Homo sapiens: one gene and its partners. The protein of the gene in region 1 purifies or fractionates together with the protein of each later gene. This does not show direct contact. Each region holds a gene or a part of one and is shown on either strand. Other genes may lie near its edges. The genes, in order: RBSN, AVIL, IFFO1 and EHD4.

Region 1 (6,419 bases):
TAGGGATGAAACACCCCATTCCACATTAGAAACATGGGTGTCCACATACAACACAATCTAGGGCAGCTTGGGTTTTGCAGTCAGACAGACCTAGGCTGGAAACCCAGCAGTGCAACCCTAAGCAAGCTTAACTTCACCACTCACTCATTTCTGCATGTGTAAATGGGTTGTTGGGAAGACTGAGGTAAGCCATGCGTAATACTTAGCACTCAGTCTAGCCTACAGTGAGCACTAGATATTATACTCTCCTGGTTTAAGAATCTATATATTCTTAAGGCCCTAAGGAGGTCTCAGTTTCACAGACTCAGGCAGTCACTATCGGAAACCAGCTCAGCAGCACCCAACCTCATTCCCCATTGCCCTTTTCTGCCCTCTTTGAGCTTGACACAATGGTTGAGCACCCACCACCACCACACCACTACCTGACCCAGCTACTTATTACTGAGGGCAAATTAAGTCAGGCAGATCTGGATTTAAACCCTCATTCCACCACTGACTGGCTGTGTGGCCTAAGCCAGGCTAATCTCTCTTAACTTTTCTACGTCTGGGGTCAGATGAACAGCTGAGTAACTACCTCACAGGCATGCTGGTAGTGCTAATGGAGGGAAATGTGGTCATGCAGAGGTGGTGACTGGCACAGATGGCAGTCACAAGGTTCCTCAATCTCTGAGCCTCAGTTTCTTCCAGTGTGAAACTGGGATGATAGGATCATTAAGGGATCTGCACTATACTTCTGTAAAACTGTTCATTTAACCAGCACTGCAGGAATAACTGGGAATAAGGGCAGAACTGGAACCCGTATCTATCCCCTGTTCAGAACCCAGTGACCTTCATTTTTTCCAGAGGCCTTAACCAGACAAACAACACAGGTGCTGGAACTATTCTGATACTCAGATGGTTGTCATCAAGAAAGGAGAAGGGATGTCATCTGATGATTCTCACTTGTAACACATGTGCACACAGACACACACACCCCCAACCTCTATCTCAGATTTTATTTTTTTTAAAAAAGGCTCCAATACAAGGCCCCAGAGTAGTGCATGCAAATCAACGACCCTCAAAGTGACAGTCATTGTCAGATAACAAGCACAATCTGCTACAGTCTGTGACCTGGTAAAGAGACCACCTTTTCATTTTGAGTCCCATCACCAACTATGCCAATGTCCAACCTACCACACAGCTCACAATGACTCAGAGGTACATTTTAGTATCTGAACAGCAAAGACATATTGAGCTGCAAGTACAATGAGTAAGTATCCTTAGTGTATTAGACAGGGTAAATACAAACAAGGCATAAAAGGGAAAAGCCAACTTCATCTGATGCCTGAATCCCTAAGTCTCTTCCATCTTTTCTCATGATCTGTGTCTAGGGAGATCTGCTATGCCATATCAAGACCTTGCTCATCTGGTGATGAGACGGGGCTGTTTGCCTTGGAAGACTAAAGAAAGGGTGAATATTCACATGAGGTAAGAACTTGAAGTTGTGGTTATAATACATAGGCCAAGTTTGCCTGCTGTCAACCCATCTCTGTAACTCCAACTTTGTGCCTGCATGAATTCTGCGACATGGTACAGCTGATGGGTAGAGAATTCTAACTCCTGTGATGTATTTACAGGAGAAGATAATCGTGGAAGAATTAAATGGAAGAATTCATAGAAGAATACAGCCATGGATAAACTTAATCAAAAGAATATGATTTTAGTTTGGTTTAGTATATTCAATCAGTCAGTTTTGTTTGTTTTTTGTGAGACGGAGTCTTGCTCTTGTCACCCAGGTTGGAGTGCAGTGGCGCAATCTTGGCTCACTGCAACCTCCGCCTCCCAGGTTCAAGCGATTCTCGTGCCTCAGCCTCCCTGAGTAGCTGGGATTACAGGCGTCTGCCACCACGCCCAGCTAATTTTTGTATTTTTAGTAGACACGGGGTTTCACCATGTTGGCCATGCTAGTCTCAAATTCCTGACCTCAGGTGATCCACCCGTCTCGGCCTCCCAAAGTGCTGGGATTACAGGAGTGAGCCACTGCACCCGGCCAGGCCTTTAAAAATAGTTTTTAAAAATGTTTCTTGTGTGTTTTTCAATGCTTTTAGTTACTTACAGATTGCTACCTGAGGTGATTTGAGGGAAGGGTATGTTTAGTGAATTAGTCTTAATCAAAATCACTAGCTAATTAAAAGAGAAATGTTCTCACAAGAAAAATAATTATGATGGAAAGCAGCAATTAGCTTCTGGAACTACCTGCTTTTCAGTTCATCCTCTTTTCAGAGAAATGAGACCCTAAGCAGGGAGGAGCCTACTGGCCATCTGAGAAACCCTCTAGAGTAACAGAGAAATGTCATGGGCCTCAGGGAAGAAAAGAGGCCTGTACCAGGCAACATCTTAGATGCCTGGTTGCCAACTTCTCAAAACAACCCATAACAACCAGCAGGGTTGGTAACTGGCTGACATTCATTAACACACTCATATGGCTGTTTGTGAACAGATCCCAAATGCAAAGCGTCCTTCACACACTTCTACCCACTCCCCATCTCCACACCCCTATACAAGATCTTTTCATTCAACCAAAAGGATAAGAAATGTGCTACAGAAATGTGAACATCAACACAAATACAGATTATTTTTTCATCAAGAGAGTTAAAACATTCCCATTATCAAGAGGGGTCTTCACCAGAATGTAACAAAATGAATTTCAGCTTTCACACCAGTAACCAGTGAAAGTATGGCCTAGAGCTAGTTACACGGCATAAAGTGACTAGTGGTCAGTTATTGTTCATTAGTTCAGATGAGTAACTGCAGAAACTCTACCCAGAGCTGAGCACATATGGCTATCATGATGTCAGATGTCAGTTAAGAGTTATGTTCCTGTAAACCAAAGCACCAGAGCTAAATTAACAATTTCCCTTTCTGGCCTTAATTGACCAACAGTTTAAGTACTGTGGTGCTACCAGCACGATCCTGGGTTGTGCTTCTTCAAACATTTCAGTTTCTCAATACTAACATTGGTAATAAAATATCTCATCAGGGCGGGCACAGTGGCTCACGCCTGTATTCCCAGCACTTTGGGAGGCCAAGGTGGCAGATCACTTGAGGCCAGGAGTTCGAAACCAGCCTGGCCAAAATGGTGAAACTCTACCTCTACTAAAAATACAGAGATTAACCAGGCGTGGTGGCCCACGCCTGTAATCCTAGCTATTCAGGGGGCTGAGGCACAAATATCACTTGAACCAGGGAGGTGGAGGTTGCAGTGAGCTGAGATCATGCCACTACACTCCAGCCTGGGCAACAAAGTGAAACTCTGTCTCAAAAAAAATAAAAAATCTCATCAGTGCCCCAAGTCAGGACACAATGAACCAAAAAGGAAGAAGGCTGATCAAATAGCCTTGGAAATTATTTTAATTTAGCTTCTGACTCTGGGAAGCTTCCCTTCTTCTGGTGATGTTCTGCAAAAGCTTCCAAATCACCGATTCCTAAATTAGAGACCCGGCCTTTTAAACAGACCCAGATCAGAGTAACTTTGCCAAAGCTCTGGAGGGAGATTTCTCCAGTGACAGACAATTGTTCTATCAGAAGAAGGGTGGGGAAACTCTTCTCACAAATAATACTAATATCAACCAAAAAGTTAACCACTCTTATTTTTTTTTGAGACGGAGTCTCACTCTCACTGCCCAGGCTGGAGTGCAGTGGTGCGATCTCGGCTCACTGCAAGCTCTGCCTCCCGGGTTCACAGCATTCTCCTGCCTCAGCCTCCAAAGTAGCTGGGACTACAGGCACCCACCACCACGCCTGGCTAATTTTTTGTATTTTTAGTAGAGACGGGATTTCACTGTGTTAGCCAGGGTGGTCTCGATCTCCTGACCTTGTGATCTGCCTGCCTCGGCCTCCCAAAGTGTTGCGATTACAGGCGTGAGCCAGCGCGCCCGGCCACCACTCTTATTTTCTAAAAAGCTCAGGACCAGATTCACATTGATACCCTGCACTGGGAGCTTAACTTCCTGAAAGAGACAAAAAAGAACTTAAACTGAGAAAATAGACCCTGGTGAAATATTCCCATCACCCCACCTTAAAAAGAGGTGCTGGGCTCTCCTGGGTCTAAACTCTCCCCTTCATAGCAGCACCTCCCCCTTCTATTGTACAGACAGGAAGTGCAGAGCAGGGGAGAGGCGGCCCCAGGTGAAATGGAACTCACAGCCTACTAGGGATGGACTTCTGTCAGAGCAGAATAGAGCTCAGTGGAATCTATCTTCTCTGTCTTGGCTAAAGGAAGGGCTCTAAAAAGGCTGCCCTATAATACTGCATAAGGAACCAAGACTAGGCAGTAGCAAATGGACCCAAGAGGTACACAGCAGCCATTTCTGCCCTGGGCCCAACAGAGCTGCATTTAGTTATATCTCGGTAGTAAAAATGTAAAGTCCCTTCAAAAGGGGTAAACCTCCGATTACAAAAGATAGTAATAATAAACAGGAAAAGCAGCAACTGAATGCTGATTCTCCCTGTTCTAGTTTCTATTTTATTATTCAACTGTAGTGGAAATACCTCAAAGTGCGCAACACAAAACAGCAGATTCCTGCCCCTCACCTGTGTGCATCTGAGTTCTCACCCTGCCACCTTCCCCATCCATCCTGCCTGCCCTCTGTCCTGCTCCACTGGCTCCTGCCAGACCCCTGGGCCCAAAGGTGCCCTCTCCACTGCTGGTCAGTCAGTGCCCCCCTTCTGCTTGGCCAGGGTGTGCTTCAGCTCCCGCAGATTCTCTGTCAGCACCTCTACCTCATCCAGGCGGCCGCACTGCTTGGCATCAAAGATGTATGCCTTGATGTTATCGATCTGCTGCAGGAGGAGCTCTTCCTCTATGGGCTCCTCAGCCTCTGGCCCACTGTCACTGTCCATCTCAAAGGGGTTGATACAGGTGGGTTCCTCAAAGGGGTTACCAGGAACCAGAGGGCTTGAGAGCCTCTGCTGGGGATGTTCGTCTTCCTCACTGAAGGGGTTAGGAGCTGGGCTGTCTGGCTGAATGAATGGATTCCCTGCCACTGCTTCCTCCTCCTCGTCCTCTTCCTCGAAAGGATTGTACTCTTTCAGGATGCGGGCTGAAGGGTCTAAGGAAACCCCTGCAGCAGGAGGACCAGTAGTGGCCTCTTCCATGGGGCTGGAGAGGTCTTCCTCATCAAAGGGGTTTAAGGAGGGCCCCTCATGTTGCTGTGGCATGCTGCTCTGGGGTAAGCGCTCCTGGCCAACGGCTGGGGGCCCAGACCACACTCTGGTGGGTTGAGTTGAGCTAAGTGAAGGGGTCTTGGGAGCTGTGCTGCTTGGAACTGGGGAAGAGCCTAGATCCAAAGCATAAGCAAGGTGGGTGCGAGGCTCTCTGCTGGGCTCCAGCTGAAAAGGGCCGATTTCTCTGAAGTCCAGGGACCGAGTCCGTGTGTGCAGGGATGCCACCCGAAACTGCTCCCTTTCTCGTTCCAACTCCCGTTCACGCAACATCTGCAGCTGTTCCCGCTGCAGGTCCTCCTCCTCAGCCTGCCTCCGGGACAGCTCGATGGCCTTCTCTGTCTGCTGCTGGTCATACTCGTCCTGCAGCTGCCGCAGGTTCTCCTGCAGAGTGCGCACTTCATCCATGCGGCCCGCGGCCTTGGCCTGCCTGATGAATGATGTGATGTTGTGGATCTGCTGGAGGAGCGGGTCTGAGTCCTCACTCTGCCCCTGACCTCCTGACAGTGGGAGCCAGCCCTCAGCCTTTCTCAAGGGGGCAGGGCCCCTGCGGAGAGATGCCACCTCCCCGTTGGCCGCTCGAGAAGCCAGGCCACTCTGCCTTTCCTCAAGCCTTCGCTGGGACTCCAGGGCAGCCTGGGGAGAGAGCAAAGCAGAGAGAAGAAACAGTCACTATGCTGGCAGCAGCCCACACTGTCACCCACCCTCTGTTGTCCCTCTATCCCTGTGCCAGTGACACTCCAATTTCTCACCTCAGGACAAAGATATCCAACTGCTAAAATCAAGTCATGTTTTTGTGTATATGTGGGCGGAAGGGAGACCCTGATTTTCAAAAATAAAATATAATGAATAAGTTAGGGCATCAGATTTTCTCAATCTTAGATTCACAGGCCGTATACTTTTCTTAAACCTCTAAGGTCTGTTCCCCTCATCTACACTGGAATCTCACGCAGCGTTAAATACACATATAATTTTCTGTTTAATATTGCATATACCGATATGTTCTACAAGGAACTTCCTAATGTCTTGGTCCTCTGCAACTCCTGCCATAGGGAGAACTGTCAATCTCTGTGGTATTCTAGCCATGAGAGAATCAGCAGAAGCTCTGAAAGAAAAATAGGCCCTGGGGAGAAAAACAATTATTCTAGTTCCCATAGATGAAAGTGAGGCTGAAACACAACAGAAGAAATATGCACATTTGAGAGAGAGGTTCTGAT
Region 2 (7,843 bases), on another chromosome or scaffold:
ATCAAATTTATCCTGGAAAACTTTAGCTGTGGAGAAAGGGTTGGGAAAAGCCGAGTGAGTAAGAAGCATCTGTGCCTGCTTTTCTAGAGTCTTAGCAATGAGAGGATGATCTGGGGGCAGTCTCACCAATTTTACCAATGCTGAACGTTTTCCCCAGGCCCATGGTCTGGTCCTTTACTGACCACTTCTGGAACAGCTGCTTGAACATGGCCGACTCAGCACCATCGTTGACGGTCTCCACATTGGTGCTGCTGGGGTAGCTCTTCATCTTGATGAAGCCCTGCAGAGCCACCCATTCCCAAAGGCAGGTCAGTGGTGGAATACACTGAGTTCTTTGCTTGTCTGGTAATTCACCTCTATGAAGCCACATGATATAAGCGTCTCCCCTCTGGGAGTCAGAGTCAAATTCTAACTCACTTTTGTCTAAGGACCAAGGTACCTGCCTAAAAAAAAAATGACTGAGTGGAACATTTTTGGATCTGTTTATTGGCTTGCGGTGATTATGGTTGTTAATTTTTAGGATGATTATGCTGTGTTCTTTCAGTACTTTTGTCCTTACTGACTTTGCATCACATTTGTTTGCTCATTTATTGCTTCTGGCTTGGTTCATCTGCATGGATCTGCACAAATATAAGCTCCTTGAGGACAGGGCCATTAACCTTGATATGTGATATCCCCTTCAATAATAACAGCCACCTTTTATTCAGCAGGTACTGTGTGCCAAGAACTGTTCTGAGTGCTTTTTTTTTTTTTAGACAGAGTCTCGCTCTCACCTAGGCTGGAGTGCCGTGGCGTGATCTCGGCTCACTGCAGCCTCCCGGGTTCAAGTGATTTTCCTATCTCAGTGCCCTGCCAGGTAGCCTGGACTACCGGCATGCGCCACCATGCCTGGATAATTTTTTTTGTATCTTTAGTAGAGACAGGGTTTCACTATGTTGGCAGGCTGGTCTTGAACTCCTTACCTCAGGTGATCCACCTGCCTCGGCCTCCCAAAGTGCTGGGATTACAGGCGTGAGCCACTGCGCCCGGCCCTGAGTGCTTTACAAATGATATTTAATCCTCACAATAACCCTAGGAGATGGGTATGACCCCCATGTTAGATATGGGGAAACTGAGGCCCACAGGTGTTAAGTATGTCTTCCCCAGAGCACACAGCTGGAAAAGACAAAACCTGGATTTGAATCCCAGTTTGTCTGCCTGACTTTGCAGTCCATGTACGTAAGCACAATGTTATATGCTCAAATACCTAGCATGGCTCTGTGGAGTGACACACCTGAAGTGCTCTTAGCAGAATTATTTGAACAGTATTGCACATCTGTAGCTCCTACCAGCGCTTTAGACATGGCTGCCTGTTTTTCAGCCTTTGTGGCTCCTTTTCCTTTCCACACGTAGATTTTGGTTCCACTTTGGTCCAGGATGTAGCAGTCCTAAAGCAGCCAGAGATAGGTATGGTTGCTCAAGACCAGAAGGAAGATTTTGCACAGGGTCTGCTTCTGAAGCATGTCTGGCTACCCCAAGCTAAGTCCACCCAAACTCTACTTACATCATGGTTCAGTAAGTCCTGGACCAGAGGCCTTGTTGCTACCTCTGTGACTGCCAGCTGCCCAGCTGAATCTGAGATACTGGAGAAGGGGAGAGGTTAGCCTGTGCCTTTTCCTCTATAAAGCATCTTGTAGTCAACTAGATGTTGTTCTGGTTTGGTTTTAGTTTGGAGTTTCTAGGTAGAGTGTGACTGCCTAAGACAGCCATGACTTGAGTGAGGACAGGAATGTGCAGACTCTTTTCTTTGGTGGAGACTTTTGTTCATCTCTCTCCCAAACATTATCCCTTCCACATCCCTGGGCATGTGTAGGCTAGAGTAAAGGAAAGGTCTCCTCAAGAGATCAGGAGAGTTGCTAACAAGAACTGCCTCCTTGAGTGGGGGATCTCCAAGCTTTCTAGGAGCTGCATTTGAAAAGGACTAAGAAGAAAACCAGATGGCTACACCCAAAACAAGGAGCCAAGCAGAGGTGGCTGGTGTTCTAGGGGACACCTTCCCCCCAACCCCAGCTTCCAGCTAAAACCAGGTTGAGCTACTCACTGATACAACATGATAGTTGATTTCTGCTTCTGATCTATGATCTCATCAGGGACTGTAGGCTTGATAATGGAGCGTCGGCCAAGGGTGTCCTGAAGGACCTTCATCAGCTCTGGGCTGGCTGCCTCCTTGTCTCCCTCGATCACTCCTATTTTAGCACGGCCCCCTCGCTCCCTGTCTCGAATATCCTTTGCCAGAAGCATAGCCTGTCAAAGAAGCCCAAGGAAGCCCTCAGCTCCTCTGGGACCCCTTTCTGCCTGATGTCTTTGGGGAGAACAGCCTAGATCCCAGACACAGGAGTTACTTGGATGCTGAGGAGTCCAGGGTGAGTCACAAACTCACACACTTGGCCTGTCTCCAAGACAGATTCTACTCAAAGGCAGGGCTCCACCTTGATTCTTGGGGAAGAGCCAGCATGGAGGGAAGAAGAAAGAGGAACTTGAGAAAGTGCTAAGGCTAGGAAGCCATACCTTCAGGCGCTCCCCACTGTTGCTCTCTGGGCCATTCCATTGGATGATGACTTTCCCAAGGTCCAGCAAGAAGACATCACCTCGGTTGAAACTGTCCCAGCTCATTTCCACCTGTCGATGAGAGGTAAACATTGTTCAGGAGGAATTCTTAGGTGCCAGGTGGAGAAGCCCCGGGCCTGGGGCAGAGAGTGTGCAGGACTAACCTCGGTAGCCCTGATGTTTCTTTTCCCTTTCACATGTAGCAGCCGCTTCACGTCGTAGGTATTGGTCTCCACGTGCTTCATCCCAGAGGCGACACCCCCCTGCTTGTAGCTAAGGGAACATCCATTCAGTTATTTGAGTGCCTGCTATGTGCTAGGTTCTGGGGAGACAGTGGTGAATTACACAGATGCAGCCTCACTCATGTGATGACAGTACATCAGCAAGGTAAATACAGATGGTGGCAGCTGCTGCCCCACAAGTAGACTGGGTGAGTGACTTTCTGGTAGCGAGTTGGGGCAGTCTTCTCTGAAGAAATGACATTTGAACTGAGATACTACAAGGAAAATGAACCAATACCCAGAAGAATAGTGCTCCAGGCACTATAACAGTGTCCAGGAGACATCAGTGACAAAGACCCCTGCACCACAGAGGGCTTGTTTTGTTCCAGGAACTGTCTGAATGCCAGTGTGTTACTGGGAGAGGGATACAAGTTGTGCTGCAGCAGAAGCATTAATGACTCCACGGCCTTAAGACCACCTACCCTAGGAATCAGCTCACCCGCCCTGCACTCAGCCCAGCCCAGCCTCCGAGCCAGGGGTCCTGCACTTTAAGGGAATGCGGAAGGTAGCCCTGGAGCAGAGGGGCTCTGTCCTTGGGTTCCCCAGTGGCTCAGTGTGCTCCTCTGTGCCCAGAAGGGCCTCAGTCAGTGGAGACTGCTGACCTGCAAGAAGCTGATCTTGGCCCAGCCTCACAATTCTCAAGCTCATTGGAATTCCTCTTTTTGTTTTAATATCAGGGGCAAAGTTTTGAGTTAAACTTCTCAGTTGATGGAACATTATCATCAGCCTTCGCTCCCTCTCTAGTGTTATGTGTCTGTGCATTCCCTTTATCTGCCTGTCCTACTCCCATTCCTCTCCCCAATACGCTTCCATTCTAACTGTTGACCTTTTTATTTTCATTCTAGTAAACTGTGTCCCCCACCTTTTTTTTTAAAGACAGGGTCTCACTCTGTCACTCAGGCTAGAGTTCAATAGTGCAATCATGGCTCATTGCAGCCTTGACCTCCCGGGCTCAAGTGATCCTCATCAGGGACTGCAGGCTCGATAATTGAGGGCTCAATACCCTCAGCCCATGGAGTAGCTAGGACTATAGGAGTGCACCGCCATGCCTGGCTAGCTTTTTTACAAAATATTTTTTGTGGAGATGAGGGTCTTACTGTGTTGCCTAGGCTGATCTTGAACTCTTGGGCTCAAGCTATCCTCTTGCCTCAGCCTCCCAAAGTGCTGGGATTACAGGTGTGAGCCACCACGCCCAACCCATCCTGTTGTTTTGTGTGCATGTTTTTGTTTTGTTTTGTTTTGTTTGAGATGGTGTCTTGCTGTGTTGCGGGGCTGGAGGGCAGTGGCATGATCTCAGCTCAGTGCAACCTTCGCCTCCTGGGTTCAAATGATTCTCCTGCCTCAGCCTCCCGAGTAGCTGGGATTACAGGTGTGCACCAGCATGCCCGGCTAATTTTTGTATTATTAGTAGAGACGGGGTTTCACCATGTTGATCAGGCTGGTCTTGAACTCCTGACCTCGTGATCCGCCTGCCTCGGCCTCCCAAAGTGCTGGGATTACAGGCGTAAGCCACCATGCCTGGCCATGCGTGTGCTTTTTAAAACAGAAATTGGCATTCTGTTATATGTCTTAGTCTGTTTCTTACTTTGTGTGCTAAGCACCATGTTTGTGAGCTCTGTCCTTGTGTTAGGTGTGTATCTAATCTGTTGCTTCTGGCTACTGCATAATACTCCGTGGTGTGCATGTCCAGTCTCCGAGTGATGGACACCTACGTTGCCTGCAGCTTCCTAACATCATTAATGAGGCTGCTATGAACAGTCTGGTCCATGTGCCCTTATGGACCTGGATACGTGAGGATTTCTGTGAGTTACACATGCAGAAGTGGGATTTGCAAGTGGCACTGACTACTCTCCAGGATGCTGCGCTAGTCCACACTTCCATCAGCAGGGCACAAGGGCTCCTATTTCCCCATAGCCTTGCCAACACTTGGCACCTCCCAGCTGTTTAATCTGCTGCTCTAGTGGGTGGAAGTGACAGCTTTGTTTTGATTTGCATTTCTCTGATTACTTTCTTGATAATGCATGTTGGCCTTTTGGGTTTCCTCCTCTGTAAACTGCTGTTTCTGTCCTTGCTCTGTGCACCCCTACTCACATGATGCCCTGCTTGAAGTAGCCACGGAAAGTGTCTGACTCATGGTACTGGACCTCTCGGTGCTGCACAGGGCTGCCTCCCAGGTAGTCGTCCAGCTGTGTGGTATATATGGCTGCGCAGCTTTGCTCATCCTGGGAGGAGTCCTTCCCGATCCAGAAGTGGATGTCCTGGGATAGGAGACTGGCCACTCTCCGGGTCTGGGAGGTAGTCAGAGAGATCAGGTCAGAGGCCAGCTCACCTCCCCTTTGCTGCTGGCCCCTGTTATGGGGAGAATGCAGCACATGTGCATGCCCTTGGCAGACTGAGGGCCCTCTCTCCTGCAGTGGATGTGGGAGCTGCCCTGGCCCCCGAGCAGACCTGCGATCATGGCATAAACTTTGGCAGCCCAAATTCCTCCCCGCATTTGGGGAAAGTTGACAGCTTGTTGTTCCCCAAATAAATAGATACCAACGGGGATCTTTTCCCAGCCGGGTTGCAGGCTTACCTCACAGGTCCCCTTGGTCCCTTGCACTCACACAGCTGGCACAGTGCTCATCTGTACACCTGCACGACCCTGTCAGCACCGTTCATGTGAGTCTCCTCCATGAGAATAGCACTTTGAGGCTAGAGACAGGCCTTGCATTTATCAGGCCTTCTTCCACACCACTTTAATGTGGGGCCTAGGCCCGGGAGAAGTGCTGCTTGTGGGTGGCTCACTGAGGTTCAGACTGAGGGTCCTACCCCCATCCTCTTATGCAGCATTAAAAACCCAGGCTTAATGATGGCCTTTGATAGTCAGACTGGAGGTCTGCTCTGCATAGCACTGAGGAACCATTGAGACCGATACCAGGGACTGACTACCTTCCCTCACCAGCACATCTCCCAGTACAGCCCAAGAACTGGCCCCAGGGGAGAGGCTCACAGGAGTGGGGAGGAGGGTGCTCACCGAGAGGATGACGTAGCAGTCCCCCTCATAGAAGTTGCCGTGGGCGCTCACAGGCACCAGCGCCAGCTCCATTTTCTGGAAGGACAAGGGGTGGGTATAGGCTACATCCCCTCCCACCTCCCTTCCCCATGAGCCTCCCTCTCCTCTCTGTCATTCGGTGCAGGTGGTGGGGAGAAGGAGGGGAGATGTTCTCAATGACCTTACAGGATGTGAGGCTGCCAGCCACAGGGTTAACGTGGCCATCCCTCTGGCTTCTGTGAGCTCTGCTTGCATCACCCCGGATCTGAACCTTGGTCCCTATCCTGCTTTCCCTTGCCCTATTCTCCACTCTACTTCCCACCCGATCTCATCTCGCACTATTGTGGGAAACCTGTGAACCACCTCCAGCCCTTTGCTGGATATAAACGACCAAGTACAAACCCTTCTCTGAGCCGTTGTGCCAGCACCTCCAACGCTCTTCCCAACGCTGACCACTGGGTGCTGGCCCAGGCCCATGTAAGAAAGAACACTTGGATTCTGTGGGGCCGTGGGAGGTGGAGGATAACATTTGGAGAGTGCCAGCGGTCAGCAGGGCTCTGTGCCAAGTGTCTTATATTTGGAGTCTGGGTCAGGGCCCTGATTTATCACTGCATGTATGGCTTGGCCCTGGAGGACTGTTCACACAGCCTTGATGTAGATTTTCATCACACTCCCCAAGTGAGGGAAACTTGCGGCCATACTTGTGTGTGTTCTATGTAAAATGTGATAAATGTTAAATATACTGCAAATCTGGTAACCGTGTTTTAGTACTTGTTTTTTGTTTTTGTTTTTGTTTTTTTTGAGAGGGAGTCTCCCTGTGTCTCCCAGGCTGGAGTGCAGTGGCGCGATCTCGGCTCACTGCAAGCTCCGCCTCCCGGGTTCACGCCATTCTCCTGCCTCAGCCTCCTGAGTAGCTGGGACTATAGGCGCCTGCCACCATGCCCAGCTAATTTTTTGTATTTTTAGTAGAGGTGGGGTTTCACTGTGTTAGCCAGGATGGTCTCAATCTCCTGACTTCGTGATCCACCCGCCTCAGCCTCCCAGAGTGCTGGGATTACAGGCGTGAGCCACCGCACCCCGCCAGTACCTGTTAGTTTTTAAGGAAACTGGAAGCCTTCAAACAGTGGAAGTGACCTGGGACTCACAATCTCTGCGAGGCTTGCTGGAGAGCTGACTCCCCCTCCTGGTTGAGGATAGTGAAGTGAGGCATCATCGCTGGGTTTTAGGCAGCAGCAACTGACTGGGCTCAGGGCAGGGGTTGGGGGGAATCCTCGTATCTGGCAGGTGGAGCTACCCAGGCCAGGGTGGTTCCCAGCTATGGATTGCTGGAGCTCACAGCCGCACAGAGGGTCCCAAGCCCAAGAGGAGACGGGCTGAACAGCTCCTCATCTCTGCAGTGCCCCCTCACCTCTCCCCATATTTTGTAGGAGCCAGGGTGCCCCGTGGAAGACATGTTCCATTTCTCTGATGGAAGCTGCCAGGAGTCTGCTGAGTAGGTCCCACCTGTCTTTCCAGGGTGTTTCCTGCAAGTGCAGACTCACTGAGCAGGTGGCTGGCTAAAGGACAAGCCTGTTTTTGTCTGGAGCCCTGTTCTTCGGGGCTGAACATTTCCTCCACCTGCCAACCACCTGCTTTGAGCACCCAGGAGAGGTGAAGGATGGGAAATAGGTACTTTGATGCTGCCTCTCATTCTCCTCAAACCATAGGCTAAGGGGTGCTGGCGGGCTGTTGCCTAGCAGCCCCAGGCAGCCAGACTGCTTCCAGATGCCAGTGGTCACAAGTAAGGTGCCTCCAGCCCAGCTCACCTCTATTCTCCAGACAATGATCCCAGGGTCGTTGTCCACAGCCCTGAAGGCACTGGTCAGAGGCATGATGCTTGTCTTTCCAGGACTGAAACATCACAGAACAAGAGGGGAGATGATATCTCTTGCCATAGTGGGCA
Region 3 (7,843 bases), on another chromosome or scaffold:
CTTGTGTCAAGGTGAGACATTCTTGCTGGGGAGGGACCTGGTATGTTCTCCTCAGACTGAGGGTAGGGCCTCCAAACAGCCTTGCTTGCTTCGAGAACCATTTGCTTCCCGCTCAGACGTCTTGAGTGCTACAGGAAGCTGGCACCACTACTTCAGAGAACAAGGCCTTTTCCTCTCCTCGCTCCAGTCCTAGGCTATCTGCTGTTGGCCAAACATGGAAGAAGCTATTCTGTGGGCAGCCCCAGGGAGGCTGACAGGTGGAGGAAGTCAGGGCTCGCACTGGGCTCTGACGCTGACTGGTTAGTGGAGCTCAGCCTGGAGCTGAGCTGCAGCGGGCAATTCCAGCTTGGCCTCCGCAGCTGTGAGGTCTTGAGCACGTGCTCTATTGCTTTCTGTGCCCTCGTGTCTTATCTGAGGACATCGTGGCCAGCCCCTAAGGTCTTCAAGCAGGATTCATCTAGGTAAACCAAGTACCTAAAACCATGCCCAAGGCGGTAAGGACTATATAATGTTTAAAAATCGGTAAAAATGCCCACCTCGCATAGTTTTGAGGAAGATGAACTGAGATGTGTCAGGGTGACTTATTTCCATCATCGTCCTTAGGGGAACTTGGGTAGGGGCAAGGCGTGTAGCTGGGACCTAGGTCCAGACCCCTGGCTCTGCCACTGAACGGCTCAGTTGCTTTGGGCAGTTACTCCCGGGCCTCACTTTGCACGTGTGCTTACCTAGTGGAGACAAAAGTACATACCTCGGTAGAGCGCGCACGCCTGTAACCCCAGCACTTTGGGAGGCCAAGGTGGGTGTATCACCTGAGGTCAGGAGTTTGAGACCAGCCTGGCCAACATGGTGAAACTCCGTCTCTACTAAAATTACAAAAATCAGCCAGGCTTCATGGCACATGCCTATAGTCCCAGCTACAGGCATGCTGAAGCAGGAGAATCGCTTGCACCCCGGAGGCAGAGGCTGCAGTGAGCTGAGACCACACCACTGCACTCCAGCCTAGGCAACAGAGTATGAGACTCCATCTCAAAAAAAAAAAAAGTACCTACCTCAGAGTTCAAACTAGTGAATATTAGGAAGTGCTTGAGACAGTGACACCAAAGTGCACAATAAATACTCGCCAGTTTCATTATTATTAAAGAATCCATTTGAATGTCAGCTCAACACAGCCTCCTATACCGAGGCATTGTGAACCGCATCTCCCCAGCTTCTCCAGGCTTTTCCAAGAATCAGGGACACTGTAGCCTGTTGGTCTCAGTGTATGACAGACACGGAGGAAGCACATCTTTAGCTGATACTTAAACAGAGACCCTGAGCGCACATACACCCGCGCACACATGCATGGAGCTTCACCTTCTCTGTCATTCTGCAGTGACCAGGAGAGCAAGAGCTCCCACCTCCCTTCAAAACACTGTGCCCATCCCGGGCACTAAGGCCTCTTTAAAGCACGGCACCTCCACGAGGGAGGGCCACAGCCACATACACTCCACCTGGCAGGTGGACAGCGTGAGCACGTGGACCATAGCAGGGACAAGGTGCCCCGGCCAGCCCCAACGCCCTCTGCCGCTGACAGGGACAGAAGCCCTCTCCAGCTGCGTGTGCTGCAGAGGCCATGCGTAGCCTCCAGCTGCATTCTATTCCACTCCAGTGCCTGGGCCAGTTAGCACCAGTGTGGAAGACAGTGAGCTGGCTCCGGACAACAGGGATGGAGGAAAGGTCCCACATTCACATTCCTGATACGTGGACAAGGTGAGGGGCCGCAATCGCTCTGGCAGCATTTTAAAGATGGGGAAGTAGCAGACACCCACGCGTGAAGGCAGGAGAGCCCCAACTGTGGTGGAAATGGCCCCAGAATGGTAGGGCCAAGCCTAGCTCCAGACACCCCAGAGCCCTGGAGAAGCCAAGACTGAGGGAGAAAGCCTGAGGGAGGAGCGCCCCAGTCCCCAGGGACCGGCCTGGTGCAGAGCTGCAGCTGATGTTCCCCTCTGTGCAGCCCCACCCTCTGCCTCGCTGAGCTCCCTGCTGCGAGGGCCTCGGGTGCAAGGGGGAGGCAGGTCTCTATCTCATGGAGCTGTCAGATGAGACATCGCGATCGGAGTCCTCAGCCTCGCTTGGCGGCGGCGGCGGGTCGCTAAGCGGGACCGCAGTGAAAGCAGGAGACTTTCTAGAAAAAAACACCAGTTGTCAACCTTGGGGCAGGCAGGAATCCTGAAGACGGACGGCACTCCTCCTCCTGCTGCCTCACCCTCTGGCAGCCCGTGAGAAGTACCGGAAGCGAGGGCGGGGCCGCGGGATGGCGAGGGAGCGGCAGGGACTGAACTCTCTCCAAACCCACCCTGACAGGGAAATGGGCCCCGCCTGTGTCTTGGGAACTCAGAGGCTGAGGTCAGGCATGATGGCTCACGCCTGTAATTCCAGCACTTTGGGAGGCAGAGGCGGGTGGATCACGACGTCAGGAGTTCAAGGCAAGCCTGGCCAACATGGTGAAACCCCATCTCTACTAAAAATGCAAAAATTAGCCAGGTGTGGTGGCGGGCGCCTTGGAGGCTGAGGCAAGATAATCACTTGAACCTGGGAGGCGGAGGTTGTAGTGAGCCAAAAAAAAAAAAAAAAGAAATAGCTGAAGTCACAGTAGGAGAGAAGCTGCTGAGCCTCCAGCACCCTGACTCTAGGGCCTTGGCTTTATGTCTATCTGCAGTATTTTTGTGATTTTTAAAAATTCACTTTCTTGTTGCGGTGTAACTTACACAGGGTCAAATGCACAAATCATGGCCCTGACTTTAGATAAAAATCTGCCCCCACAACCCTTCTGTTCCTTGCCAGTTTTTAAACTGCCTCTAACCAGGGGAACCACCAGAGCTGGTGGCCTTGGGAGGTTTCAGCCCTCCCGTCATGAATGGACATAGCTCATCCAACTGCCAAGGGAGAGAGCTGTGGGTCTGGGCCAGCCCCACCAGGTAACTCCCAAAGGGCAGCCCCACAGCAAGATGTGACCCAGTCATTGCCTGAGGGTCTCTGGGGCTGTGTTCCAACCTTTCTCCCCGCTGTGTCCCCCTGGAAGGCCCCATGCCCAGGGGAGGCGCCTACCGGTCTCCAGACTGGGTGATGAGCCGGCGGCAGGTCTCCATCTGCACGTCCAGGCCGCGCTTCATGCTGCACATCTCCATGTACTCGTGCAGGTGCCGGTTCATGTCGTTCTTGGCCGTGGCCAACTCCAGCTGTGGTGGGGCAGGCAGGGCCATCGGGGTTAACAGGTGGCGTTCACAGCGCCTCTGTTGCCCCCGCCAGGAGGCCAACACGCCAAGAGCAGTGGCTGGGCCGGGGGCCCAGGCAGCCATTACTGAAGGCTCAGATTTTAAAATAAACCAGACCAAGGCAGAAGGCAGCGAATACACCATTGTTTCCTCTGCTTTTCCTGGAAATCTTTGCCTATGGAGGAATGCAAAGGTACTGCTGCAGGCTGTGTTCTTTTAAGACTGATAAGAGTGGTGAGGAAAGTCAGTGTGGGCGGGATGGAGCAGATCCACAGGCTCCCAGGGCCACACAGGTTCCTATGGGGCCCGGCTCACCCCTCATCCCCTGTACTGCGCTGGTCCTGGGCTGTCCCCTCACTGCACTGTGAGCTCCCGTAAGGGTTAGCGACAGGTTTTCCTCATCCTGGCAGACCCAGACCTCGAAGGGAATTAACTCTCTCTGTGACCCGTGGCATACAAGCCTGGCTAACTGCTGAAAGGGGCCCAATCCTCTTACCATTCTCTCCTTATCACTTTATTTTCTCACCTAAAAGCCATTTTCAGACACTAAAAGGAAGACTCCCATATTGGAGGTGCCATTGATTCTGAGACCTGTCCTGATTTCAGAAATGTCACACGTGGAAAACACGGGGCTCAGAATCAAAGAAATCCGGTCTCCCTCCCCGGGCCCATTCTGCAGCCCACACTCTGAGGCAGGCGGAGAGGCAGGGCCCAGGCAGCACAAACTCAGTGCCAGGGACAGTCGACTGCCTCTCTTTGTTTTGGGTACAAAGGGCAGGGGCCGCAAGGGGAAGCAAAATGAAACTTCCTGGAGATGACGTTCGTGACTGCCTGAGTGAAGAGAACGGGGAGGATACCAGCTGCCATAATGTGGATTGGACAGAGAGGGTGGGAACTTAGAGAAAGAAGGAAACAGGTTACAGGGCCAGACAGCAGAGATGGTCAGGACAGTGACATTTGGGGTGAGATGGCGGCTGGCTGGGTGAGAAGCCCTAGTGGGGACAGCTTCCCTGGCAGGCTTGGATCCACAGCTGGGGCCCCACAGTAGTGGGAGGAGCAGGACACGGTGACTGTTCAACCCAGGGGGAAAATACAGTGCCACCAGCCCTTGTTCAGATCAGCTGCCTACACCCCAATTTCTCCACCTTGGAAGAACCGGAGTGCAGGGAGCTGGGTTCTGGAACCATCACTCAGGGAGACTGGGAAGAAGGAAATGAACCAAATATATTCTACTGAAATACAAGGCTAGTACTGCCACCAGTAGTCTCTGCATATGTCTATGTCCCCACTTAATTCACAAATTTACAGCAGGAACAAGGTCAGGAGGTGAACGTGCATGTCAGGAGATGTCCTTGACAAGCCACCTTGAAAACTGCAGGCTCGCTGTGTGAACAGACTTGGGGGTGGGACGGGAGGAGACAGAGAGAGGTGAGGAGCGGTGGGGAAGAACTGCCTCCCGCCCACCACTCTGGGCCTTGGCTTTACCTTGCTCCATCTTAGTGACCCTGAGAGATCAAAGGTCACAAAGATAAAGGCACCTTGGGTACTCCTGAGGTCAGCAAGTCCTCCTAACGGTTCCCCTAATGCAGAAGTCCCCAAACCCCAGGCCACGGACCAGTACCTGTCTGTGGCCTGTTAGGAACCAGGCCAAATAGCAGGAGGTGAGCAGTGGGCAAGTGAGTGAAGCTTCATCTGTATTTACAGCTGCTCCCCATCACTGGCATTACAGCCTGAGCTCCACCTCCTGTCAGATCCGCGGCGGCATTAGATTCTCACAGGATCCTGAACCCTACCTTACGTGAACTGTGCATGCGAGGGATCTAGGCTGTGTGCTCCTTATGAGAATCTAATGCCTGATGATCTGTCACTATCTCCCATCACCCCCAGATGGGACCGTCTAGTTGCGGAAAACAAGTTCATGGCTCCCACTGATTCTACATTATGGTGAGATGTATAATTATTTCATTATATATTATAATGTAATAATAATAGAAATAAAGTGCACAGGCCGGGTGCGGTGGCTCATGCCTGTAATCCCAGCACTTTGGGAGGCCGAGGTGGTGGATCACCTGAGGTCGGGAGTTCGAGACCAGCTTGACCAACATGGAGAAACCCCATCTCTACTAAAAATACAAAATTAGCCAGGCGTGGTGGCACATGCCCGTAATCCCAGCTACTTGGGAGGCTGAGGCAGGAGAATTGCTTGAGCCCGGGAGGCGGAGGCTGCAGTGAGCCAAGATTGCGCCATTGCACTCCAGCCTGGGCAACAAGAGCAAAACTCTGTCTCTAAAAATAATAATAATAATTTTTAAAAATAGTAATAAAGTACACAATAAATGTAATGTTTGAATCATCTCAAAATCATTTCCCCCGGGTCAGTGGAAAAACTGTCTTCCACAAACCAGTCCCTGGTACCAAAAAGGTTGGGGACTGCTGCCTAAAGTCATTGCACTGGGAGAGAGGAGGAGTCAGATGATTTGAAAATACTTTTTTTTTTTTTTTTCCTGAGATGGAATCTTGCTCTGTCACCCAGGCTGTGGTGCAGTGGCACAATCTCAGCTCACTGCAGCCTCCACCTCCCAGATTCCAGCAATTCTCCTGCCTCAGCCTCCCAAGTAGCTGGGATTACAGGTGCCCACCACAATGCCTGGCTACTTTTTGTATTTTTAGTAGAGACGGGGTTTCACATGTTGGTGGCCAGGCTGGTCTCACACTCCTGACCTCAAGTGATCTGCCCGCGTTGGCCTCCCAAAGTGCTGGGATTACAGGCGAGAGCCACCACGCCCAGCCAAAAATAGCTTAAAAGGCATGATTCCATTTAAGATATTATTTTCGTTCTTTCAGATCATGTTTTACACTGGGCACTTGAGGTCCAGGGAAGACTAGGGAGAGATGGCAGCCCGAGATCTCTTCTCACGAAGATGGCCGCACAAAGGCCCCTAGTTGGTTGAAGGCACAGTGAAAACACAAACCTTAAATCCACCATCCAAAAGAGGGAGACAAGAATCAGGTCAGGCAGGAGGAGGAAACAGTGAGCCGCGGTAGACGGGAGGGTGGGGAGTACTGGTTTCCCTTGCCATGTCTTTAGCTAGCAGCACAAATCCAGGAAACCTCATCTACCTGGCCAAGAAAACCAGGTTTGATGCAGGAGCAGGACAGTTTGATGTGTGTTGGGAGAATGAGTATATAGGAAAATAATTTCTCGACTTCCTTCTCAAACACCTCCAATGTGACAGCAATAAGAATAAAGTCAAGGCCGGGCGCGGTGGCTCACGCCTGTAATCCCAGCACTTTGGAAGGCCGAGGCGGGTGGATCACGAGGTCAGGAGATCGAGACCATCCTGGCTAACATGGTGAAACCCCGTCTCTACTAAAAAATACAAAAAATTAGCCGGGCGTAGTGGCAGGCGCCTGTAGTCCCAGCTACTCTGGAGGCTGAGGCAGGAGAATGGCGTGAACCTGGGAGGTGGAGCTTGCAGTGAGCTGAGATCGCGCCACTGCACTCCAGCCTGGGCGACACAGCGAGACTACGTCTCAAAAAAATAAATAAATAAATAAATAAATGAAAAGAATAAAGTCACTCTCTCCTTATCCACTGGTTTCACTTTCCACGGCTTCAGGTACCCAAGGTGAACCTTGATCTGAAAATATTAAATGAAATATTCCAGAAATAAACAATTCCTAAGTTTTAAATTGCACGCTGTTCTGAGTGGCCTGATAAAATCTCACTCTCTCTGCCGGGCGCGGTGGCTCACGCCTATAATCCCAGCACTTTGGGAGGCCGAGGTGGGCGGATCATGAGGTCAGGAGATCGAGATCATCCTGGCTAACACGGTGAAACCCCATCTCTACTAAAAAATACAAAAGAAATTAGCCGGGCGTGATGGCGGGCGCCTGTAGTCCCAGCTACTCAGGAGGCTGAGGCAGGAGAATGGCGTGAACCCAGGAGGTGGAGCTTGCAGTGAGCCGAGTTCAAGCCACTGCACTCCAGCCTGGGTGACACAGCGAGACTCCGTCTCGGAAAAAAAAAAAAAAACCTCACTCTATCCAGACCAGGACATGAACCCTCCCTCTGTCCCAAGGATCCACACTGTCTATACTGCCTGCCCATTAGTTACTTAGGAGCCATCTCAGTGATGAGATTGACTGTCGTGGTATGGCAGTGCCCGTGTTCAAGGAACCCTTATTTTTACTTCATAATGGCCCCAAAGCACAAGAGTAGTGATGCTGGCAATTTGGATATGTGAAAGAGAAGCCAAAATATGCTCCCTTTAAGTGAAAAGGTAAAAGTTTTCAACTTAATAAGAAAAAGAATCCGATGCTGAGGTTGGTAAGCTCTACAGTAAGAATGAATCTTCTATCCGTGAAATTGTAAAGAAGGAAAAAGAAATTTGTGCCAGTTTTGCTGTCACACCTCGAACTGCAAAAGGTACCGCCACAGCGCACGCTAAGTGCTTAGTTAAGATAGAAAAGGCATTGAATGTGTGGGTGGGAGACATGAACAGAAACACGTTCCAGTTGACAGCAACTGGACCCAAGCTATCAGGAGGTCAGTGCTATCTTTGGTTTCAGGCATCCACTGTGGGTCT
Region 4 (7,843 bases), on another chromosome or scaffold:
CTTTTCCAAGAAGGTCTGCGTTAAAGCAATGGTGAGCTGCTGCTTGGGAAGAGCAAATACAAAAATGTAACTTAGAGACAGAATGCAGTTCCAGGACAAATGGATCCCAGTGGGATTTTTTTTTGTTTGTTTTGAAGAACCTAACTAAGAAAGTTCTTCTCAAAGAATGACAGAAAATGAGAATTGATAGCATTTGAAAAATAAAGAGTAATGCACGCAGAAGAGTCTTGAGCTAAAATTATTAAAAAGTATTTCAAAGTGACAATATTTAAGATGGTATGGTGTTGGCATAAGAATTTACAAACAGAATAACACGAGACAAAGGTCCTAACAGACTCAATATAGTATTTAATAACTTAGCGTATGAGGAAGCCTCATGTGACAGCAGAAAAAGGTAGATTTAATAATAGTGTTAGAAAATGACAAAAGACAAAAAAAAAAAAACCCACAACAATATAATTGAGACAGATTTTACTTCCAGGTGGGTTAAAAAGTTAAATATTTAAAAAGTAATCCTATTTTAAAAAGAGCGCCCGGCCAGCCGCCCCGTCCGGGAGGGAGGCGGGGGGCAGCCCCCACCCGGCCGCCGCCCCGTCTGGGAGGTGGGGGGCGCCTCTGCCCAGCCACCCTGTCTGGGAAGTGAGGAGCCCCTCTGCCCGGCCGCCACCCTGTCTGGGAGGTGTACCCAACAGCTCATTGAGAACGGGCCATGATGAGGATGGCGGTTTTGTCGAATAGAAAAGGGGGAAATGTGGGGAAAAGAAAGAGAGATCAGATTGTTACTGTGTCTGTGTAGAAAGAAGTAGACATAGGAGACTGCATTTTGTTCTGTACTAAGAAAAATTCTTCTGCCTTGGGATGCTGTTAATCTATGACTTTACCCCCAACCCCGTGCTCTCTGAAACATGTGCTGTGTCCACTCAGGGTTAAATGGATTAAGGGCAGTGCAAGATGTGCTTTGTTAAACAGATGCCTGAAGGCAGCATACTCCTTAAGAGTCATCACCACTCCCTAATCTCAAGTACCCAGGGACACAAACACTGCGGAAGGCCGCAGGGTCCTCTGCCTAGGAAAACCAGAGACCCTTGTTCACATGTTTATCTGCTGACCTTCCCTCCACTATTGTCCTATGACCCTGCCAAATCCCCCCCTCGGAGAAACACCCAAGAATGATCAATAAATACTAAAAAAAAAAAAAAAAAAGAGGCAGGGCACGGTGGCTCACGCCTGTAATCCCAGCCCTTTGGGAGGCCGAGACAGGCAGATCACTTGAGGTCAGGTGTTCGAGACCAGCCTGGTTAACATGGCAAAACCTTGTCTCTACTAAAAAATACAAAAATTAGCCAGGCATGGTGGCCCATGCCTGTAATCCCAGCTACTTGGGAGGTTGAGGCACAAGAACCGCTTGAACTGGAAGGTGGAGGTTGCAGTGAGCCGAGAACGTGCTACTGCACTCCAGTGTGGGTGGACAGAGTGAGAGTCTGTTTCAAAAAAAAAAAAAAAAAGAATATGAGTGAACATTTCCTGAGTCTTAAGATAAACAAGGATTTTCTAACCAAAAAATAAAAGATATTATAAAAAAGGAAAAATTGTTAGATTTGATCACAAATATTAAATATATCTGCATGGAAAAACTATTACAAAAATTACAAGGCAAATTTCAAACTGGAAAAACACTTTTACAACTGTGACAAAGGATTGATATCTGTTACTGAGAAAAACATTTACATTTATTTATAAGAACAAGACCAGGGCCAGGCTCGGTGGCTCATGCCTATAATCCCAGCATTTTGGGAGGCCGAGGCAGGTGGATCATGAAGTCAGGAGATCGAGACCATCCTGGCTAATACAGTGAAACCCCGTCTCTTCTAAAAATGCAAAAAATTAGCCGGGAGTGGTGGTGGGCGCCTGTAGTCCCAGCTACTCCAGAGGCTGAGGCAGGAGAATGGCGTGAACCTGGGAGGCAGAGCTTGCAGTGAGCTGAGATCGCGCCACTGCACTCCAGCCTGGGTGACAGAGTGAGACTCCATCTCAAAAAAAAAAAAAAAAAAAAAAAAAGGACAAGACCAACACTTCAAATGAAAATTGGACAAAGTTCACAGACAATTCAGACAATTCACAAAGTAATATGGAAGACAACTATATTTTATAAGTTCAACGTCACTAGTAAGAAATAAACAAATTAAAATAAGTCTGTTCTGGCTGAGTGCCCCATGGCTCACGCCTATAATCCCAGCACTTTGGACTTTGGGAGGCCAAGGCGTGAGGATCGCTTGAGCTCAGGAGTTTGAGACCAGCCTAGACAGCACAGCGAGATCCCAACTCTACAAAAAATGAATAAATTGGCTGGGTGTGGTGGTGCAATGTACCTGTAGTCCCAGCTACTCCAGAGGCTGAGGTGGGAGGATTGCTTGAGCCCAGGAGTTTGAGGCTGCAGTGAGCTATGATGGCATCACTGTACTCCAGCCTGGGCAACAGAGCAAGACCCTATCTAAAACACTTTTTTTTCCTATCAAATTAATTTTAATTAGTTTTACTGGCAGTTTGGTGAATTACTGATCCTCATATTTCTGGTGGGAGTCTAATTTGGAATAACTGTCCTAAAAAAGAAAGATAGATACATAGATTTAGGAATATATATAAGCCTGAAAAAAAAAAAAAATATATATATATATTTTGAGACAAGGCCTCACTCAGTTGCCCAGACTGGAGTTCAGTGGTGCAATCTCAGCTTACTGCAGCCTCGACCACCTGGGCTCAAGTGATCCTCCCACCTCAGCCTCCCAGGTAACTGGGACTACAGGCATGCACCACCATGTCCGGCTAATTTTTGTATTTTTTTTTAGAGATGGGGCTCACCATGTTGCCCAGGCTGATCTTGAACTCCTGGAGTCAAGTGATTTGTCCACCTTGGCCTCCCAAAGTGCTGGGATTACAGGTGTGAGCTGCTGCGCCCAGCCTATTATCTATATTTTTTGAGGCACTAATTTATGCTTAGGCTATTCTAAGAAAAAAACTAGAAATACAAAGATTTATGGCCAAAAATGTTCAGTTCATTGCAACATTATGTATAACAGCATAAAAACAGAAACAACCTAAATGTCCAACCTGTACTATAGATTATGATGTAGTCATTGAAGTTATTTTTGAAGACTATATAATGACATAAGAAAATGCTCATCGTATCATATTAAGCAAAAAAGAACCCCATTTATTAAATTATATTTACACAATCCTCAGTTTTGTAAGCATGAATTCTATGTCTTCATCTAAGTCACTGAGAGAAATGTGAACAGATGGGGTTTGGAACGGATGGAAGGTTCAGCAAAGTCAGCCTCCCTTTTCTGGGTTGAGGCTAGCCCTCTTCCATTCCTCCATTAACTGAACCTTCATCTGGCAATGGTTCCCAAATGTTTCCTAGGGGAGGGCACATAAGAATTACTGTGAGAGATGGTTTAGAAAAACAAAAACAGATTTTGGAGCCTGACCCACAGAGATTTCGACTCAGGAGGTCTGAGGTGGGGCCCTGGAATCCGTGTCAAAAGGCCTCCAAGTGATTCTGATGCACAGCCACGTGCAGAAGGAACCACGGCCTTCTGGTTCGAGGTTTTGAAAAGGACATTGAACACCTTTTGTAAGTCAGCTTCTGAATGTGAGTTAGGGAAGATAATGTCAGGATGGAAAAAGCCTTCCCCCTCCTACATTTCTCCAAATACTCTGTTGCTGCTTGTCAGGTGGATGATGTGACAACTGGCCCAGCTGCTGGCCTGCAGCGCTTCCCTGCTCGGACTGCAGCTGCCAGCGCTCCCCTGCCCACCCCCCGCCCCACCTACTCACCTCCTGCCTACCCCCACCACCCCACCCAGCCCCGCCTACCCTGCAGCTCCTTGCCCTGCTCTTCAGGACTTTTGCTCCAAGTCTTGCCTCCTCTTTGTCTTCTGAGATGCCAGCTGCTCCCTCTCCATGGCTTCCCTTCTGTCCACTTTTCATTCTGCTGAGGTTGTGCTTGTCTTTACCCAAACCCCTGTGATGCTTGTGGCCAGGCCTCCTTCCCCCAGGCCTAGCTGCTGAGAATTTGACGCCTCACATCCCACTCATTCCTCAACCCGCGCCATCTGGCTTCCTTCACCACCACTCACAGGCACACCTCTTGGCAAGGTCACCTGGCTCCCAAAGGCTAATCTACTGGTTCTGTTTCAGTCCTTTTCCTGGAAGCATCTGACACTACTGACCACCACCTCTCTCCCTGGCTTTTGTGGGGGTCATCGTTGCTTTACTTGCCTCGTATCCCCTTTTCTTGGTAGCAGCATCCTCAGGAGCTGCCTTCCCCAGCTCTCAGGCCACGTGGTTGGTGGGGCTGACCTCCCCACTCCCCACATTTCATGCCCCTGCCCCTAAGGATTGGTTCAGGGATGGGCATATGGTCAGGGTCAAACCAATGAGACTCAAGCCTGAGACTTTTACTGGGGCTGCTGAGCCAGCAGAATTCGAGGCTGGAAATGGAGGTGGCCGCCTGCCCACCCCTGAGAAGGAACACAACATGAGGAGGGCCACAGAGCCAACAGAGTCCTGGTGTGTCTCCTGCAGTCCTGGGCCAAGCCTGAAGCTTGCACATCCTGGTCTGATGGGTTTCAGGAAAACGTTCTTATCTTTTTATCTAAGCTAGCTTTGGTTGGATTTCTGTCACTTGCAACCTAAAGAGATCTGAGACAGCACTGAGCCACTACCCTCCCAGGCAATTACCCACCTCTTTGGTACTTTCCCCGGAGGGTCTCCACAAGCTCTGCTTCCTCTCACTTAAGAGTCCTGTGCAAGGACTTCTACTTCCCAGATGCTGGCTACTAAATGCTGACACTCCCAAGTCAACAGACCAGCCCAGATATCTCCCTGAGCTCCAGACCCATGTCTTACCCCTCATGGACATCGCCACCTTGGTGTCCACTCAAACATGACAGGTCTAAATCTAAACTTATCATTATGCCCCATCCTTCCTCTTCTTGGATCCCCATCTCAGTGAACAGCTGTACTCCCCAGTTACCCCAGAAACCGAGGCCTCATGGGTGACACCTCCCCACCCTCACTCCCTGGCCCTCTTTGGGCAGCTAATTCTCTGCTCATTCCTCAGGGCTCAGCTTTTAGGCTGCATTCTCAGGGAGGCAGCCTTTTCCAACCCGCAAGCCTGAATGAGGGGGTCCCTCCTATGCCCCCAGCCACCCTGTGTTTCTAGTGTTACAGCCCTTGTCACTCAGAGCTGTGGCCTGTTGACTCTCTTCTGTGATGGCTGGCCCCAACCCTGAAATCAAGATCATTTGAATAAATGAACACTAGCATCTGTAGGTGTGATCTTATATTGTATATTGAAAATATAGTCTAATTTTCTGTAAAAATTAAATATCTCAATATTTTAGAGAGATCTGTAAAGGGTATAATATTTGGAACAGAAGATTGATTTTCAGGAGCCCCAGTATCTGGATGAGTGTGAGAACCACTAAATAGGACCCATAGTTTTTCTGTGTGAGATTTTATTTTTTTAAAAATAGATGAACCAGGCTGCCTATTAGTGAATGCCTTCACTTCCCTTTTCCTTAATTACTGAGTCTAGAAACTTATCAAGGGAATGAAGCAGGCCTTTGTTCCTATTCAGAATCCATTTCCCTGCTTTTTTGAAAATGAGAACATCTGCCTGCTTCCAGTGTTCCAATACTTTTCATATTCTTCACAATTTCTTAAAAGCCACCAAATACAGTTCTTTGAGCAGAAATGCAAGTTCTTTCATCCATGTGTCCGGCCAGAGATTTCCTGAACCTCGCCTGTGGCAGGCCCTGGGAGAGCTCCTCAGCCTGTGGTTTTAATCCCCTCTTGAACACAGCTGGGCTCCCTTCTGCCATCTCTGGGGCATTTTCTTTGAGGAAAAGGAGGAAGCTGAGTAGTTCTGCTTTCTGTTAATATTGCAGCAAGAGCCCATGAGTGGGCCGATCACTTCCTGATTCTTGTTCTTGTTCTAATCATACCTTAAAAGGCTTTTTTAATGTCCAAGGCACTTTTACCTTCTCAGCCCACTCCAGCTTCTTGATCCTTCATACCGCCCATAAACCTTGTCTGCACCCTTGCACATGCACCCCTGCCCCTTTTTTCCCCTATTAAATACTATAGTTAAATGTTAATATCTAAAGTTTTTAAACACAATTACGGTATCAAGCATTTTATTAAAAATTTTTATCATACTTTGATTTTACCAACTTGAGTGTTATGAACAATGAACATGTTTATACATTGACAAGAATACTCATACAGGGATTGTGGGATGGCTACTTTCACTCCCTTTTCCCTCATCTTTACTCCTTTTTTTTTTTTTTTTTGTAGAGATGGGGTCTCACTATGTTGCCCAGGGTGGTCTTGAACTCCTGAGCTCAAACGATCCACCTACCTCAGTCTCCCAAAGTGTTAGGATTACAGGTGTGAGCCACTGCACCTGGCCCCTCATCTTTACTCTTTAGTTCCTTTGCCCTTGGGTTCTTCTAGCTTATTTCTACTTTGTTTTCTTTCTGGCATCCATTTCTATTTTAAATTATTACACATAGATGCAGAAATTACTTGGCTGGCGCTAGTTGCAGAATCATGAAAATTAAATCACATGATGCTTAGTGTTGAAAGACTGAATTGTTTTGGTTTTTTATTGAGATATAATTCATATACCAGAAAATTTATTCTTTTACAGGGTGCACTCCTTTAGTATATTCACAAAGTTGTGCAACCAATATCATTATCCAATTTCAGAACATTTTCATCACATCAAAGAGAAACTCCACGCCCACTAACAGTCATTCTCTATTTCGTTTGCATGCGGCTATCCAGTTGTCCTAGCACCATTTGTTGAACTATAGTTTCCCCCATTGTTCTAATAGTTTTTAAGTGGTTTCTTAGGATTCTCTACATAGAAGATCATGTCATCTGCAAAGAGTTTTACTTTTTTCTCTCCAGTCTGGGAGTTTATTTCTTTTCTTGCCTTATTTCCCTGCTCTCTACCCTTTTAAAGCCTATATAGTTTCTTGAGTGACTTCCCTCTTTTTTCCTCATTAGAATAAGTTTTCTGGGGAGAGGGAACAGAGCATATGAAGGGAGAAAGTGGAGCTCTTAAAAATGTGTAGTTTGGGATGGGGCGCGGTGGCTCACGCCTGTAATCCCAGCACTTTGGGAGGCCAAGGCGGGCAAATCACCTGAGGTCGGGAGTTTGAGACCAGCCTGACCAACATGGAAAAACCCCATCTCTACTAAAAATACAAAATTAGCCAGGCGTGGTGGCACATGCCTGTAATCCCAGCTACTCGGGAGGCTGAGACAGAAGAATTGCTTGAACCCGGGAGGGGGAGGTTGCGGTGAGCCGAGATCATGCCATGGCACTCCAGCCTGGGCAACAACAGCGAAACTGTCTCAAAAAAAAAAAATTGTGTAGTTTGCATTCATTTCAAATGGACTTCATACTTTTTCAGTGGAAATGTCTTCCTTCACAGCACCTGGGGCCAGGGATTTTCTGGAGGAATCTTTGAAATCTGTTTTCCTCAAGTTTTGGACACAAGCCTGGGTGAGCTCCATATCCATCCTTCCTCGGCTAGTACAGAGTCTAAGATGACATGGTCACTTTCCCCCATGCCCATCTCCCCTCCTTCTCTGGCCAATTCTTTATTGCCAGTCAAAGGCAGAAGAGCCAACAGCAATAAGAGAAGATTCCCACCATGTCAGCACAGGTTCTGTGTCATCAGTGACCTCTTGGAATGTGCAGGAAGCCAGGGAGATAAGAATCTATGGCTATGTAGATTAGGTACACCCCACAGCCAAGTATGAG

The links.
Region 2: the proteins of RBSN (region 1) and AVIL purify together in Homo sapiens (affinity purification with mass spectrometry; 2 studies listed by BioGRID and IntAct, with this or other methods). This does not show direct contact.
Region 3: the proteins of RBSN (region 1) and IFFO1 purify together in Homo sapiens (affinity purification with mass spectrometry; 2 studies listed by BioGRID and IntAct, with this or other methods). This does not show direct contact.
Region 4: the proteins of RBSN (region 1) and EHD4 purify together in Homo sapiens (affinity purification with mass spectrometry; 2 studies listed by BioGRID and IntAct, with this or other methods). This does not show direct contact.

Annotation. Positions count from the first base shown.
Region 1 is NC_000003.12:15,069,093-15,075,511, forward strand, and holds the end of RBSN (rabenosyn-5), read right to left. Parts: intron 5,839-6,419; coding exon 4,690-5,838; 3' UTR 981-4,689; downstream 1-980. UniProt on the Homo sapiens protein: Rab4/Rab5 effector protein acting in early endocytic membrane fusion and membrane trafficking of recycling endosomes. Required for endosome fusion either homotypically or with clathrin coated vesicles.
Region 2 is NC_000012.12:57,808,269-57,816,111, forward strand, and holds part of AVIL (advillin), read right to left. Parts: exon of another isoform or gene 7,792-7,843; 5' UTR 7,773-7,791; coding exon 7,707-7,772; exon of another isoform or gene 6,989-7,706; intron 5,959-6,988; coding exon 5,884-5,958; intron 5,156-5,883; coding exon 4,959-5,155; intron 2,860-4,958; coding exon 2,751-2,859; intron 2,659-2,750; coding exon 2,548-2,658; intron 2,284-2,547; coding exon 2,081-2,283; intron 1,623-2,080; coding exon 1,544-1,622; intron 1,458-1,543; exon of another isoform or gene 1,428-1,457; coding exon 1,329-1,427; exon of another isoform or gene 1,316-1,328; coding exon of another isoform or gene 1,274-1,315; intron 281-1,273; coding exon 127-280; intron 27-126; coding exon 1-26.
Region 3 is NC_000012.12:6,538,425-6,546,267, forward strand, and holds the end of IFFO1 (non-homologous end joining factor IFFO1), read right to left. Parts: intron 3,430-7,843; coding exon of another isoform or gene 3,349-3,429; exon of another isoform or gene 3,226-3,348; intron 3,219-3,225; coding exon 3,088-3,218; intron 2,165-3,087; coding exon 2,059-2,164; 3' UTR 1,115-2,058; downstream 1-1,114. UniProt on the Homo sapiens protein: Nuclear matrix protein involved in the immobilization of broken DNA ends and the suppression of chromosome translocation during DNA double-strand breaks (DSBs).
Region 4 is NC_000015.10:41,962,112-41,969,954, forward strand, and holds part of EHD4 (EH domain-containing protein 4), read right to left. Parts: intron 4,005-7,843; exon of another isoform or gene 3,877-4,004; intron 1-3,876. UniProt on the Homo sapiens protein: ATP- and membrane-binding protein that probably controls membrane reorganization/tubulation upon ATP hydrolysis. Plays a role in early endosomal transport.